3 separate regions of the Homo sapiens genome follow, and all the other regions are linked to region 2. Evidence: fine-mapped expression QTL. A gene starts in region 2. Each other region holds a variant in brackets. All regions are shown on one strand. Distances are between the middles of the regions.

Region 1 (4,000 bases), 24 kb before region 2:
CATCCAATTCTACATTAATAATGTGATTTTACTAGAAAGAGAATAAAGTGGAAGAGAATGAAATTACATGAAAATGGAATTCTCCAGGAAGATCTGAACTCTGGATTTCCTAAATAGAGTTTTTACATTCATAAGCATACATGCACAACTGTCCTAGACACTGTGCCCTTAGTTAACCCCAAAGCCCCCTTTACATGGAGATCCTACTTTCTGGACCCAGCGGTCTGGGCTGGGCGATGCAGCCTGTTAGGTCCCCACCCCCATTTCCAGCTCTCCCAGGTGAAGGGCGTCTCCGGGTCACAAATCTGGGGGGAATACCCCTCCATTCAGCCCTTCTACTGTTTGAACTTTCCCTACCCTCCAACACTGCCCTTACCTGGGGCCCCACCGGTACTTACTCAGCCGCCTCAAGTACAAAACTGCATCCTCGTACCCTCGGTAGTAGTAATCGTGCAGGATCTGTGGGCGGAGGCACCAGGAGAATTACCAAGGCTGCGGGGAGGAAGGGAGCCACAGTTCCCCCGACCCAGGGCAGCTACTCCCATTGCTCTTGAATTTTATTTGATGGGCTTTTCAAAACGTACCCATCCAGTGTCCCATCCCTCACTGTCTGCTAAGAAGAACCGAGGAGCAATTCCTGATCACACGCCCCAGTGATGCTCCGTTCATGAGTTACACCATTCATGGTGGAGCCTCGGCCTCCCCTGGGAGGAAAGTGTGGGGTGCTCATGGCAGAACCAGGTGCACTGGGGCCATATGAAGAGCAAAGTTTGGAGCCTGAGTTCAGGTCTCTGGGCTGCCCCTTATTGGCTGTGTTGCTGTCCCCTCTCACAGCCTCAATTTCTTCATCTATAAAATGGGGACAGTTATAATATTGATCATAGAGGATGCTAGAGGATTACATGAGCTACTGCCCACAAAGCCTTTTCTGTAAAGGGCCAGATAGTAAATACTTATTTTGGGCTTTGCTGGCCACATGCAGTCTCTGCCTAATGTTCTTTTTCTTTTTCTTCTTTTTTTCTTTCCCCCATAACTCTCTAAAAATGGAAAACCCTTTCTTAGCTCACAGGCTGTACAAAAACAAGCCATAGGCTAGATTTGGCCCGTGGGCTGCAGCTTGCCGACCTTTGATTTGGGACATGAACTGTCTGAATGGATGGGTTCAGTTAATATTTCTATCAGCACTTCTGGCATCATCTCGCTTTACCGGGGAGAATGTTGAAGCTGGGAGAGCTTGAGGCGCTTGTTCAAGGTCACATAGCTAGTTAGCAGCAAGGCCAGGATGCAGGTCTAGGAGGAAGTTTAAAGGACCATTTGAGGGGAGGAGACTCAGATGGAACTTGAGTGGGCCCCAGTGGCTCTCTAACCCCACCCCTAGTCCCTGGTACCTTCTGCTACTCCCCAGACCCCTCCTGCCTCTCACCACCAGGTCCGGGGGGAACAATGCGTGGGTCATCCTGGCGATGTTCTCCAGGGAGAACTGGAAGGAGCAGTTGAACATGCGGAAGTCGTGGAAGATGGCCGGGCAGTCCCGGGGACAGATGTCCTGCTGCCCACTGAAGGTGGAGATGGTGATGGCGTCGGTCCAGAAGGCACAGGGCTGCATGCCCGTGAAGCCCCCATCGATGTACCTCTGTGGGGGCAGAGTGAGAAATGCCCACTTGGGGCCAGAGTTCTCAGCCCCACTCGGGGTACATCGAAATGGCCCATGGGATATGGCACCAGCTTCAAGGGCCCATCAAGGAAGATCCAGAAGACCCCTCAGGATAAGCCTGGAGACGGAGGTCCTGGTGGGTGCGTGGTGTGCCCCTGGTCACTTAGTGAGTCTGCATTGGCCTCTGGACTCCCAGCCCGGTGCTCTGTCCTGCACTGATCCTCCCTCCACTATCTTAGTGGCGCTGAGACTGGGGCTCCCAGGGCTCTGTGTGCAGGGGACCCATACTCTGGGTAAAGCAGGAGACGTGCTCCTCTGCTACAGCCCCACCACCTGTTCACCCACAAGCCCCTTCCTTTCTGGGGCTTCTGTTTTCTCACCTATGAACGAAGGACAACAAATACTGAGGCTCTAACTCTCAGGGCTGGCTGACATGCAATACAAGCTCCATCTACTACCTGAATCCTAGTCTCTGGCCCTGACTTTCTCTGCATATAAAATGAGGAGGGGGCATGAGCTAGACCATCACCACTCAGAGTGTGGCCCACCCA[C/T]CAGCAGCACGGGCAGCACCTGAGGCTGGTTAGGGGCGCAGACCCTCAGGCACTGCCTCAGACCGCCTGGATCAGAACTTGCATAATTTTACGAGACCCCGAGTGATTCAAGGGCACATTAAAGTCTGTAAGGCCCTGGCCTACAGGCCTCAGAAAACATCCTCATCATTTGAGTTTCCAGGTCCCAGTGCTTCATCTCCTCTGCTCTGTCAAGTCTGGGAAAACCTGCCAAGCCTATGGAGCCTTGATTTGCCCGGCTTGGCAGTGGGTAGGTGGGTCCAGAGAGGAACCCACCCCAGCTGGAGAAGTTCATCTTAAAGGCCCAGAAAGCCACCTACATTGGGAATTCTGAGTAACAACATGAGAAACTCTCCAACTCTAGGTCCTCCCGCTGCATTCTGAGACCACCCCCCTGCTCCCCCAGGTGTGAGTCACAGGGACCCGAGGTCCCTTGGATCCCATCTCACCCCTCACCATGCCGAAGCACTCACCACACCGCGGTAAGTCGGGGGGATGAGGCCACAGTACACCGGGACGAAGCAGCTGCAGTATAGGGCCTGTGCGGAGAGAACAGGGCTGAGATGCTGGAGGCCCGGGGGTGGGGTGGGGACAGCTCACCTGTCAGCCCCTGGGCCACCCACCACCAGCCCAGACCTCCTTAAATTCTAGGTGAAGGTGCCACACTGGGAAGCAAAGCTCCGAGTTCAGTTCCTGGCCTGGCCTTCACTAATTGGGTCCTTGGTAACCTGCTTGGTCCATCTGGCCCTGATGTCCCAGCTTTAAAGCAGGAGGGGGTCCTCCATAGCTTCGGGGTTCCTTCTGATGCTGAACTTTCATGAATCCAGTGGGATTCAACAACCATTAATGTGTGTCAGCCCTGGGCCAGGCCCTGGAAGCAAAGGAGGCTGAGAGGCCCACCTTTGGGAGTGCCCTATGAGAGGGAGTGAGCAAGTGGGTGACGGTGCAGTGGGGTGACAGGGGCATGGTGGAGGTGAGCATGGGCACCGTGGCTCCACAAGAGGGGTGCAGGCAGGGTGGGAGGGGATGAAGGGAAGTGCCCTGGCAGGAGGGACTGGGTTTCAGCAGCAGGCAAAGCAGTGTGGGAAGGAGGGAGGGGATCCCAGGCAGAGGGAGCGGCAGGTGCAAAGACCCAGAGGCCTGGCTTGTGTGTGGTTTGCTAGGGTTGGCATGGTAGGAGTGGAAGGTGGGGGAGAGGGCCGGGAAGAGAAAACTGCAGCAGTGGGCAGTGAAGTCAGAACGGGGGTGGGCGTGAGGAGGCAGATCTGGAAGAGCTGGCTGCTGATAAACCCAGGGGGCCTGAGGGACGGAGGTGGTGTCTGTGCCCACTGCCTATTCATCCCTCATCCCCAGGATTACTGCCAGGCCAGTATGGGATGAGGATGGAGTGGCGAAGCCCCTGTATGTGGGGGAAGGAAGGAGAGTGGAGATGTGGGAAGGAGGCCACACAGCTTAACCCCTTTGTCCCGAAAGACACTGGGACCTACCTGCGGCCCTTTCCAGCAATCATTATTCATAACTAAAATTAATATTAATGAGCTTAGGGCAGCGCACTCAGGATTAGCGTGCACTTTTCTAAGTGTTAACTGATTTGGTAACCATTCAATCCCTTATCAAGGGCCACTGGAAGAGAGGGGGCAGAAAGGGGACATGGGGGCCCCTCTCCCCTGACCGTTCCCACAAAGTGGGAGTAATTCTGGGGGGATGCATGGCAGCCCAGCCTGGAAGGCCCTGAAGGAGACCCAGGCCCTCTGCAAGTCACACCTGGGCCTCTGGG
Region 2 (4,238 bases):
TATTAGGAGCTCCCATTTGTGGACGGAGAAACAGAGGCGCAGAACGTTCAATAACTTACTTCAGGCATGCATCATGAAATGGCAGAGCTGGGATCCCACCTGAGGAGCTCACGCCCTCTGCCCCCTCCCCACTTGCTGTCACAGCCGTCTGTGCTCCCCCTCCCTTAGGTGAGATGAGAGCTTGTGGCTAAGGCCACATGACCTGGCCCCTGTTGACCTCCCACCACCTTTTCCACACCGCAGGCTTCGTGGCTGCTCCTCCACCAGGAATTCTCCTTTTCAGGAGCTCCCAGTAGCTTGTTCTATCACTATACCCAGCTCTAGGCTTGAATGTCACCTCCTCAGAAAGGCTTCCCTGACCACCTTCCTGAAATAGTCTCCATTTCATTCTCAGTCCCTTTCCTGCTTTAATTTTATTCATAGATCATATCACTTCCCGACCTCACACTAGAAGGTGCCTTGTTTGAATGTTTATTATCTGTTTCTTTTCTCTAGAATTTCTGCTCCACAAGGGCGGGGACCTTGTCCTCAGTGCCTGGAACAGAGCTCTGTCTAGAATAGGAGCTCTGTAAATGAATAAATGCCCCTCCAAGGTAGCTCACTAGGCTGTTGGGCTTGTTCCTTGGGGCTGCTAGATGCATCTGCTGTCCGGGACAGTGTTTCTCTCTCTGGGTTAGCAGTGTAGCAGTTCTTCTCGCTGAGGCTCCTGGACCAGCAGGACAGAAGGTGAAGTGAGAGCTTCTGTATTCTCTCCCCACCCCTTCCTATTCTTCTCCCACTCTGGGCTCCCTCCTGTCTACCCCTCCAGCCTCAGGGCGTTCATCTTTCCAGCCACCTGGAAATGGTGGACAATACGTCCCCATCAGGGTGATAGAGATTTGAAGAGTTGCCTCTCCCAAGGGTATTTGCATTTTGAAAGAGGCCAGGCAGGAGCAACACTGAACCCCAATGTATGACTGTGCCGTGGTGTAGCTTCTGACAGCACCATGTTCGATGTTCGAGGGAGATACTGTCCTTTACTCTCCCAGGCACTGGGAGACAGAGCATCTCACAGGTAAGGGCACTGAGGGAGAGGGACAGGGGTCCAGGCTCACCCTGCATGTTAGAGTCTGGGGCCTGGCAGACCCCAACCTTCAAACGTCACAGCTGCCGCTATCCTACTCCAACCAGCTCTTCCCTTCCCTTCCTGCCACCCAGGCCTGGCTTTGTCCCCCAAAGCATCCCCAGCCTCCCTCACGCTCCTTCTGTCTCTGTGGAATCCCCCAAGAGACTTCCCAGGGGACCCAGAACACAGGCCTCACCCATTTCAATCCCGCAGATGGCCAGGGCGGCGATCACAGCACCTGCCGATGTCCCCGCAAAGCGGTGGGCTGTTTCCAGCATCCGGGGGGCCAGGTCCCGCAGGGCGTCCACAGCCCCCGCCTGGTAGAAGGAGAGGAATCCACTGCCCGAGAAGGAGATGGAGTGAGGGGTGTCCGGGTCCCCCTTGAACACCTGTTCTTCCATCTCCTCGGCCTCTGACTTTCTGCGGAAGGCGGAGCCACCCTTCAGCACTTGCCTGCCCGAGCCTGGGCTGCCGCTCCCTGTAGGAACTCCCTACCCAGCTTCCCTGCCACCCCGGAGCTTGGAATGTGGCTGTCTCTACCCGGCTGGAGCAACCACAGGCTGCTCAGGAAGCTGCCTCAGCCTGTTAAGCTCCGCCAGGAGGCAACTCCAAAGGTTGGAAAGGGGCCCCAGAATGAGATGCAGAAGGCTCCCCCGGTGTGTGAGCAGGGTCTTGGTCCTGTGAGCCCCCCACTGGCTTCATTTCTTGGCTAGATTCATCTCGGGCACGGGATCCTCAGCCCTCTGCCCATCCATGGTATACCAGGGCGCATTCACTGCTCCCCAGCACAGGGCCATGCCCAAGGAGGCGGGCTCTGCCCAGCCCTCAGCTGCAACATTCAGTTGCAAAACCTCCGTGATGGTTATCGGTGTACACCTCCCTCCCCAACATGCTGCTGCGGCCGTGAAGGGCTTCCAAGCCCGCCTCCCTCCAGGAGGACGGTGCCTACCCCATCTCTTTTGGACGGGTCCCCCAAAAGAGATGCCCCTCCTGGGCTCCTTCAGGCTATGTGGTATGTGTGATGTGTTACACAAGCATTTTTATTTGTTTTTCTTACATAAACACCCCTTTGTTTATTCACTTGTTTATTTACATGTTAGCATTGGCCCTGGGTAAAATTTTAAGAGAAGTGTGACTTTGGCGGCCCCACCCACCACCGCCTCTGCACCTCTCTCTGTTTCTTCTCCTGGGCCCTTCACTGACCCTGTGACCTTGGTCAGTGCCCTCTCGACAAGCCCCAAGCCCTCATGCTATCTTCTAAGTGTGCAGGAAGAAATCAACCTGAAATCTAGATCATTCTAAGTGTGTGAGGCTTCGTGTTGCGTGTTCTTCTTCCCGCTCAGAAATGAGAAGTTTGAGATAGCAATGTTTAACCCCAAGGAGGAGCAGCTGGGGAGGTCACCTGTGGGGACGTCGGGGTCAGGGCAGAGAGACGTTTTGGTAAGGGAGGTGGTGTGAGAGGACCAGGGTTAGCTCCAGGGGCTGCGGTTCTGCCCCCTGAGGGGCTGTATCATGTGGTCCTGATGGGGAGGAGTGGTTCTCACACCCACAAAATGTCCCCTCATGGAGATATAACAAAGAAGGCAAGATGGCGTCTCCCGCTCCCCTCAAAGACCACACAGCAACAGGACCAGAATCAGAATCAAGACACCAAGGCCTCCACCAAGTGCCAATCCAGGATGTGACATCAGTGGCTTCCCCGCTTCTGGGGAGCTTGCACCATTCTGGTGGACTCACTTATCTGCATGGGAATTCCACAGTGAGGGCAAGGCCAGGCTTCAGTTAGGAGGGAGTTTTCTGTCTTGGGTAGGTAATTCCAGGCATATCATTGCCTCAGGTTGAAAAGAGAGCTTTAGATTAGATAAAGTGTGTGTGCGTACATGCGTGTGTATGCATGTGTGCATGTGTGTGCAGATATCTGAGGCATACTGCTGGGGTGGGGGCGGGTGTGTCAGGGTGGAGTCCAGTCAGCTTTTGGACAGCAGAGACCCTGCCCCCTTCCTGGGAGGTGAGGTCAGCTCCACTGAGGGCTTGTGTGCCAAGCCCTGTGCTGTGTCGGGGCCCTGGGGGACAGGAGCACACAGAAGCTCCATCCCCAAATCAGATATTTGCAGGCTTCTTGGGAACAAGACAGGCAAATGTGAAATAAGCAGAAAACTGTACAAGGCAATCTATAATTAAGTACTAAACTGTGCAGGGCTGAGATTCCTGCCAGAAAAGTTAGGAGGCGGGGCTGAGCAGTGTGGGCTGGAACATCTGAGGAGCTGTGCGGCGGAGGTGTGGGCTGCGGGACTGGAGGCAGCTGGGAGGAGCAGGCAGGCACTGGTCGAGGAGCAGCAAGAGCCCCTTGCAGAGAAGGGAAGGGGTGTAATGGGACCTGTTTCACAGGATGAAGGGCTTTGGATGAGAACCCTTCTGAGTCATGACATTGGATCCCAACTCTGCTATTTACAGGCAGTGTGACCTGTGCATGATCTCTCTGGGCCTCAGTTTTCCTCATCTGTGAAAGGGACAATACTGTCATTCCTATGCTGCACAGTAGCTGTAAAGGCTAAAGGTAATGGCTGTAGGACGCCTGGCACACGGCACGTCTGTGGTTATCAGAGGGTAGTAAGAGTCAAGGCTTCTGGAACAGATAGACCCCAGAGATAAGGTGGAATAGAAAGGCAGGGTCCAAAGGGGAAGGCTTGATCCACATGCGACATGAGGAGGAGCTTGGAGAGGTCTCAAGATGCAGAGCCTTGGAAGGAAGATGAGACTGGGGCTGGAGAATGAGGAAGGAGGATGGTGGCCCATTCTCCTAGGATGATGGTGGCCAGGCCAGGGTGGCAGCTGCAGGAAGACAAGTTAATGAAGTTATTGCTGCAGAAGACTCTCAGGGCCAGGGACTGGTTGGATGGGCAGGGTGAGTCAAGGCTGAGGCCTCACTTTTAGCCTGGGGGTAGGGAGGAGTGGGGCTGCCTCCTGCAGAGTTGGGGAAACTGGAACAGACCTGGGGAAGCTGGGTGGAGGATGATTTTACTTTAAGATGCATCTGAGATGACAGCAAGACATGGGCACTATCCATGGGGGGGGCAGGGATGGCACCAGAACCAAGGACAGAGATCCCTGCCACTGAGGCAGCAGAGAAGGG
Region 3 (4,240 bases), 23 kb after region 2:
GTCCTGTGTAACACAAGCCTTGGGAAGTCTCTAGGAGGAGAAAGTATGCAGGTTATACCACCTCCTAGCTGTGGGATCCCATGACTAGGCCCCTAGCAAAAACTAAGCAGCACTAATGGACAGAAACACCTGGCATGAAGTGGGACTCTGTAAGAGCAAGTTACCTCTCCCCTGGCCTCTGCACCTTCCCCATTGGGCCTCTCTAGGGCAGATATGCAGCCAGCATCCAGTGCAACAAGCAGTGCCGACCTTGCCCACACCCCCCCTTTTTCAGAAGATGAAGTTCTTCTCAATAGGACTCAATCTTTTGGTGGGGGGACGTTTGCTTAAATTGAAAAGTTGGCCAGGTTCAGTGGCTCACACCTGTAATCTCAGCACTTTGGGAGGCTGACGTGGGCGGATCACCTGAGATCAAGAGTTCAAGACCAGCCTGGCCAACATGGTGAAACCTTGTCTCTGCTAAAAGTACAAAAATTAGCTGGGCATGGTGGCATGTGCCTGTAATCCCAGCTACTCAGGAGGCTGAGATAGGAGAATTGCTTGAATCCAGGAGGCACTTGCAGTGAGCCGAGATCGTGCCACTGCACTCCAGCCTGGGCGACAGAGCAAGACTCCGTCTCAAAAAAAAAAAAAAATGAGAAGTTATTTTGGTGTGGCATTTAAGACACCTAGGTAAGGTTATAAGCACGAGCCCGAGTGAAGCAGTGTTTGAATTTAGGCTGTGTCACTTCCTAATAATGTGTGTGGTTACGCAATTTCCTTGTGTCTCAATAAAATAGAAGTAATAATAACAGAGCCTCCCTCAGAGGGCTGTTGGAGGAGTAGATGAGGTGCTACATGCAGGGCCCTGAGAACTGTCCTGTCGCTCAGGAAGCAAGTTTTGCAGGTTCACCAGAGCCTTGTCGAATCCTTATATCTGTTCTCCACTGCATTTTTCTTTTATTTTATTATTATTTTTTTAAATCACCTCCCTTCCTCCCACAGCATTGTTCATCTGAGTGTTCGGTGTGGATTACACCAAACATTTTCTCTGCTTCTTTTAAGGGTGTGGACAATCGGGCAAGTGACTGCATGTGACAACAGAGAGAGGGCATGGTACACGGTGGCAGATGAGCCCGGGACTGGAGGCAGATCTGGGTTCCAGTTCGGGCTCTACCAGCAGCACCCATGTGTCCTTCTGTTCTCTGGGCCTCAATTTCCTGTTGTAAAATTCAGAACTTGGAAGAGGTAAGTGGTTAGGTCATTCCTGAGACATCCCAGATAATCACAGCCATCCAAACGTTGGCTCGGGAGCCCTGAGTAACCAAGACTGCAGGAAGCAACAGTTTAGTAAGGGTTCAGAATCCTGTGATTAGGGCTCGAGAATGAAATACTCTTCTAAGAGCTTCTCCCAGACCAAAAGGAGCTAATTAGGAAAGAATGGTGGCATTCTCTGGGCAAACTGGAGGAGCCCCTGGGCTTGGCCTCCTTATGCCTTCCTCCTTGACCCTCCTCTAGCCCCCTTGGACACAACACAACGTCCCCCCTCTGCTTTTTCCCCAGATACTATGGTAAACCTGCTCTCAGATCTTTCTCCACACCTAGAAAAATTCATTCATCGACTATACACTTTAATGAATATGCACTTACTATGTACCAGATATTCTTTGGCTGCTAGGGCAGAGCAGCAGGGACATAGCCCCTGTCCCCGTGGGGTCAACATGCTGGTGGAGGGAGTCAGAGGTAATAAAATAAGCAAGTAAGACACACAGTAGAGCAGGCAGAGTTGGCGGAGAACTGGATCTAACTGGGTTGGGGTTTTGCCAAGCAAGTACAGTCCAACTTGGAGTGTGGAGGGAAGGGTATAGAAAAGGTAGGGACTAGAATAACTAACCCTGGAATTTAGGCTGGGAAAGGAGGGAGTAGGGATTTGAAAGCGGGTGAGGTCAGTAGTCTGTGGGGCCCTGAGGGGCGATGGCTCCAAGGCACGAGCCGGAAAGAGGTTTGACAGTGGCTTCTCTGGAGGGCTCAAGCTTGACCAGGAAACTGAGTGCCGAGCCCTGGAAGATCACTGGGGAGAGGAGGTCAAAGAACTGGGAGGCCAGGGCACCATCGGCGGGCTGGTAAGTGGATGGTGAAACCACCAGGCAGGGGGCAGGAGGAGCTGGAGAGAGGACGCGAGATGGGAGCTAAAATCCTAAAATCCGCAGGGAGTGCGGAAAGCAGTGACAGCAGTGAGCGCGGGGAGGCTGGTCCTGAGTCTGGGATGGGGCGATGGCGTTCAAGAAGACATATTTAAGAGTACTATGTAATTTTACGTGTGGGAAGAACCTTTTGTTTTTGTAATTAGAACTACAGAAAGGGACAGAGCTGTTTATGTCATGAAAAGCAGGCCTGAGCATTAGAAGACTGAGAAACACCTGGGAGGATCTTGTTTCAACAGAGCTCAAAGCCGTGGCAAAAGGA[C/T]GGAGCTCGAATTGTGCAATTGTGAGTGACTCGAAGCTGGGTGGGAAAGCGTCTAGTTTCTTATGCATAAAGGACCTTCCTGTTGTCTCTGAAATCATACCAAGTAGATGCCACCATTTCAGCAGAGGCTTGAATTATACTGATAATGACAAGTTATCAGTATCATATAACTAATGTAATTGATTGATAGGAGGAGTTAAGGACACGGGATCTGGCCGGGCACCATGGCTCACACCTGTAATTCCAGCACTTTGGGAGGCCAAGGTGGGCGGATCACTTGAGTTCAAGAGTTCAAGATCGGCCTGGGCAACATGGCCAGGCAACATGTAAAAATACAAAATTTAGCTGGGTGTGGTGGTGGGCGCACCTGTAATCCCAACTACTTGGGAGGCTGAGATGGGAGAATCATTTGAACCTGGGAGGTGGAGGGTGCAGTGAACTGTGATTGTACCACTGCACTCCAGCCTGGGTGACAGAGTAAGACCTCGTCAAAAAAAAAAATCCAAAAATGTGGGATCTGTTTAAACCCTGGCTCTGCTCCCTGCTACTCATTACCCTCATCTGTGCAGCAGGGGTGATACCAGCCCTCACCCCTCTGTTTCTGAGAAGTAGATGAGCGTGTATGTGCACAGAGACCTGCCTGCAGTGTTGTGAGGACTCACAAAATGTTGGCTAGATATCCTAATCTTTCTCATGTTTGTTGGCAAACAAAAACAGGCTGAGATGGCCCTGTGCCATTCGTATATCTGTGTGTGGAATAACAGACAGTATAAAGCTGAAAAGCAGGTCCCTCCCTGGCTAATTGCATTTCAGCAGCCGCTGGGAGGCAGTGTGGCGGGGGGCGGGGAGTGAAACTGTGCGGGGAGTCAGGGAGCCTGGGTTTCCTCCTCAGCCAATGAGGCCAAGGCCAAATCAGGATGTCCCTGAGCCCCTGTTTGCCTACCTGTAACGTGGGGATGACGGTTCCTGCCAGGTACCCACAAGGCTGTTGTGAGGACTGAATGAGGAAATGCTCCTTGAAGATAAATGACAATGCCACAGAAGAGCGGATGCAGCTCCCCTGTGCTGAGTACTCACCTACTGTGTGCTGGGCACAGGGGCAGAGCCACCCACCCCTCCCTGCAGCAGTGCCTGGAAGGCAGGACCAGCATCCTGATAGCCAGAGTTGAGACAGAGTTTAAGGGCCTGCCAGGCATAACTCCCTCGCCAGGCATAGAAATAAAGGAACATCTTGAGTTCTTTCAAGGGAAGTTCCAGGCACCTAGCTAGCCCTGAGAGTAAATGAACAACATGATAAGCAAGAAGGAAATAATAGCTTTTCAAAAAAAATAGCCAAGGAAGTTAGAGTCACAAAATACTTGGTTCCCTATTGAAACTTAAGATAACATCTTAATATATGTTCCTGAGTTGTTTTTCAGAAACCCAGGCCCCCAGCAAATGGAAAATGCCATCCACTGGCACAGAGACTTCAGTTGGGAGCCGAGGACTGAACTCAGACCACCATTCTTTGTTCAACATTTCTTCCTGAGGGGCCTGGAGGAAGTCACACCCACAGGCCAGAGCTCAACATTCCTTTCTGCTGACCCCAGGTTTTTAGACAAAGCTTTGCCTCCTTAACCAATCACAAATCAGAGGATCTTTGAATCCACCTATGACCTGCGGGCCCCGCTTCGAGATGTCCCACCCTTTTAGGTCAAACCAATGCACAGTTTCCATGTATTGATTTATGACTTTGCCTGTAACCTCTGCCTCCCTGCCTTTAAAAACCCTTACCTGTGAGCCACCCTGGAGTTCG

Direction of the effects. Alleles are on the strand shown, and positions count from the first base shown. SD is a standard deviation of normalised expression in the study named. Not every link is listed here.
As copies of T replace C in region 1, the expression in monocytes after LPS of the gene that starts at base 1,906 in region 2 goes up (large effect, 1.0 SD a copy in Kim-Hellmuth 2017).

Evidence for each region. PIP is the estimated chance that this variant, and not a neighbour inherited with it, causes the effect. A credible set is the group of variants that fine-mapping cannot tell apart.
Region 1: its variant is the best candidate, but not a certain one, in a credible set for the expression of PNPLA1 in monocytes after LPS (Kim-Hellmuth 2017, PIP 0.77).
Region 3: its variant is the best candidate, but not a certain one, in a credible set for the expression of PNPLA1 in whole blood (INTERVAL, PIP 0.85).

What each region holds. Positions count from the first base shown.
Region 1 is chr6:36,291,823-36,295,822 of GRCh38, reverse strand. It overlaps PNPLA1 (patatin like domain 1, omega-hydroxyceramide transacylase), which reads right to left. Exons shown (of 9, transcript NM_001374623.1): 3 at 2,697-2,762; 4 at 1,424-1,633; 5 at 399-459. Among named protein-coding and RNA genes, the nearest start is that of PNPLA1, 24 kb to the right of the region's middle. The variant C/T (reference allele first, on the strand shown) is at 2,206.
Region 2 is chr6:36,267,728-36,271,965 of GRCh38, reverse strand. PNPLA1 (patatin like domain 1, omega-hydroxyceramide transacylase) reads right to left here and starts at 1,906. Exons shown (of 9, transcript NM_001374623.1): 1 at 1,302-1,906. The coding sequence starts at 1,506. RefSeq lists an enhancer at 3,212-3,798.
Region 3 is chr6:36,244,920-36,249,159 of GRCh38, reverse strand. LOC105375036 (a long non-coding RNA gene) reads left to right here and starts at 1,151. Exons shown (of 5, transcript XR_007059564.1): 1 at 1,151-1,227; 2 at 2,330-2,466; 3 at 3,864-4,034. It also overlaps a transcript of PNPLA1 not described here. RefSeq lists a silencer at 3,331-3,380. The variant C/T (reference allele first, on the strand shown) is at 2,446.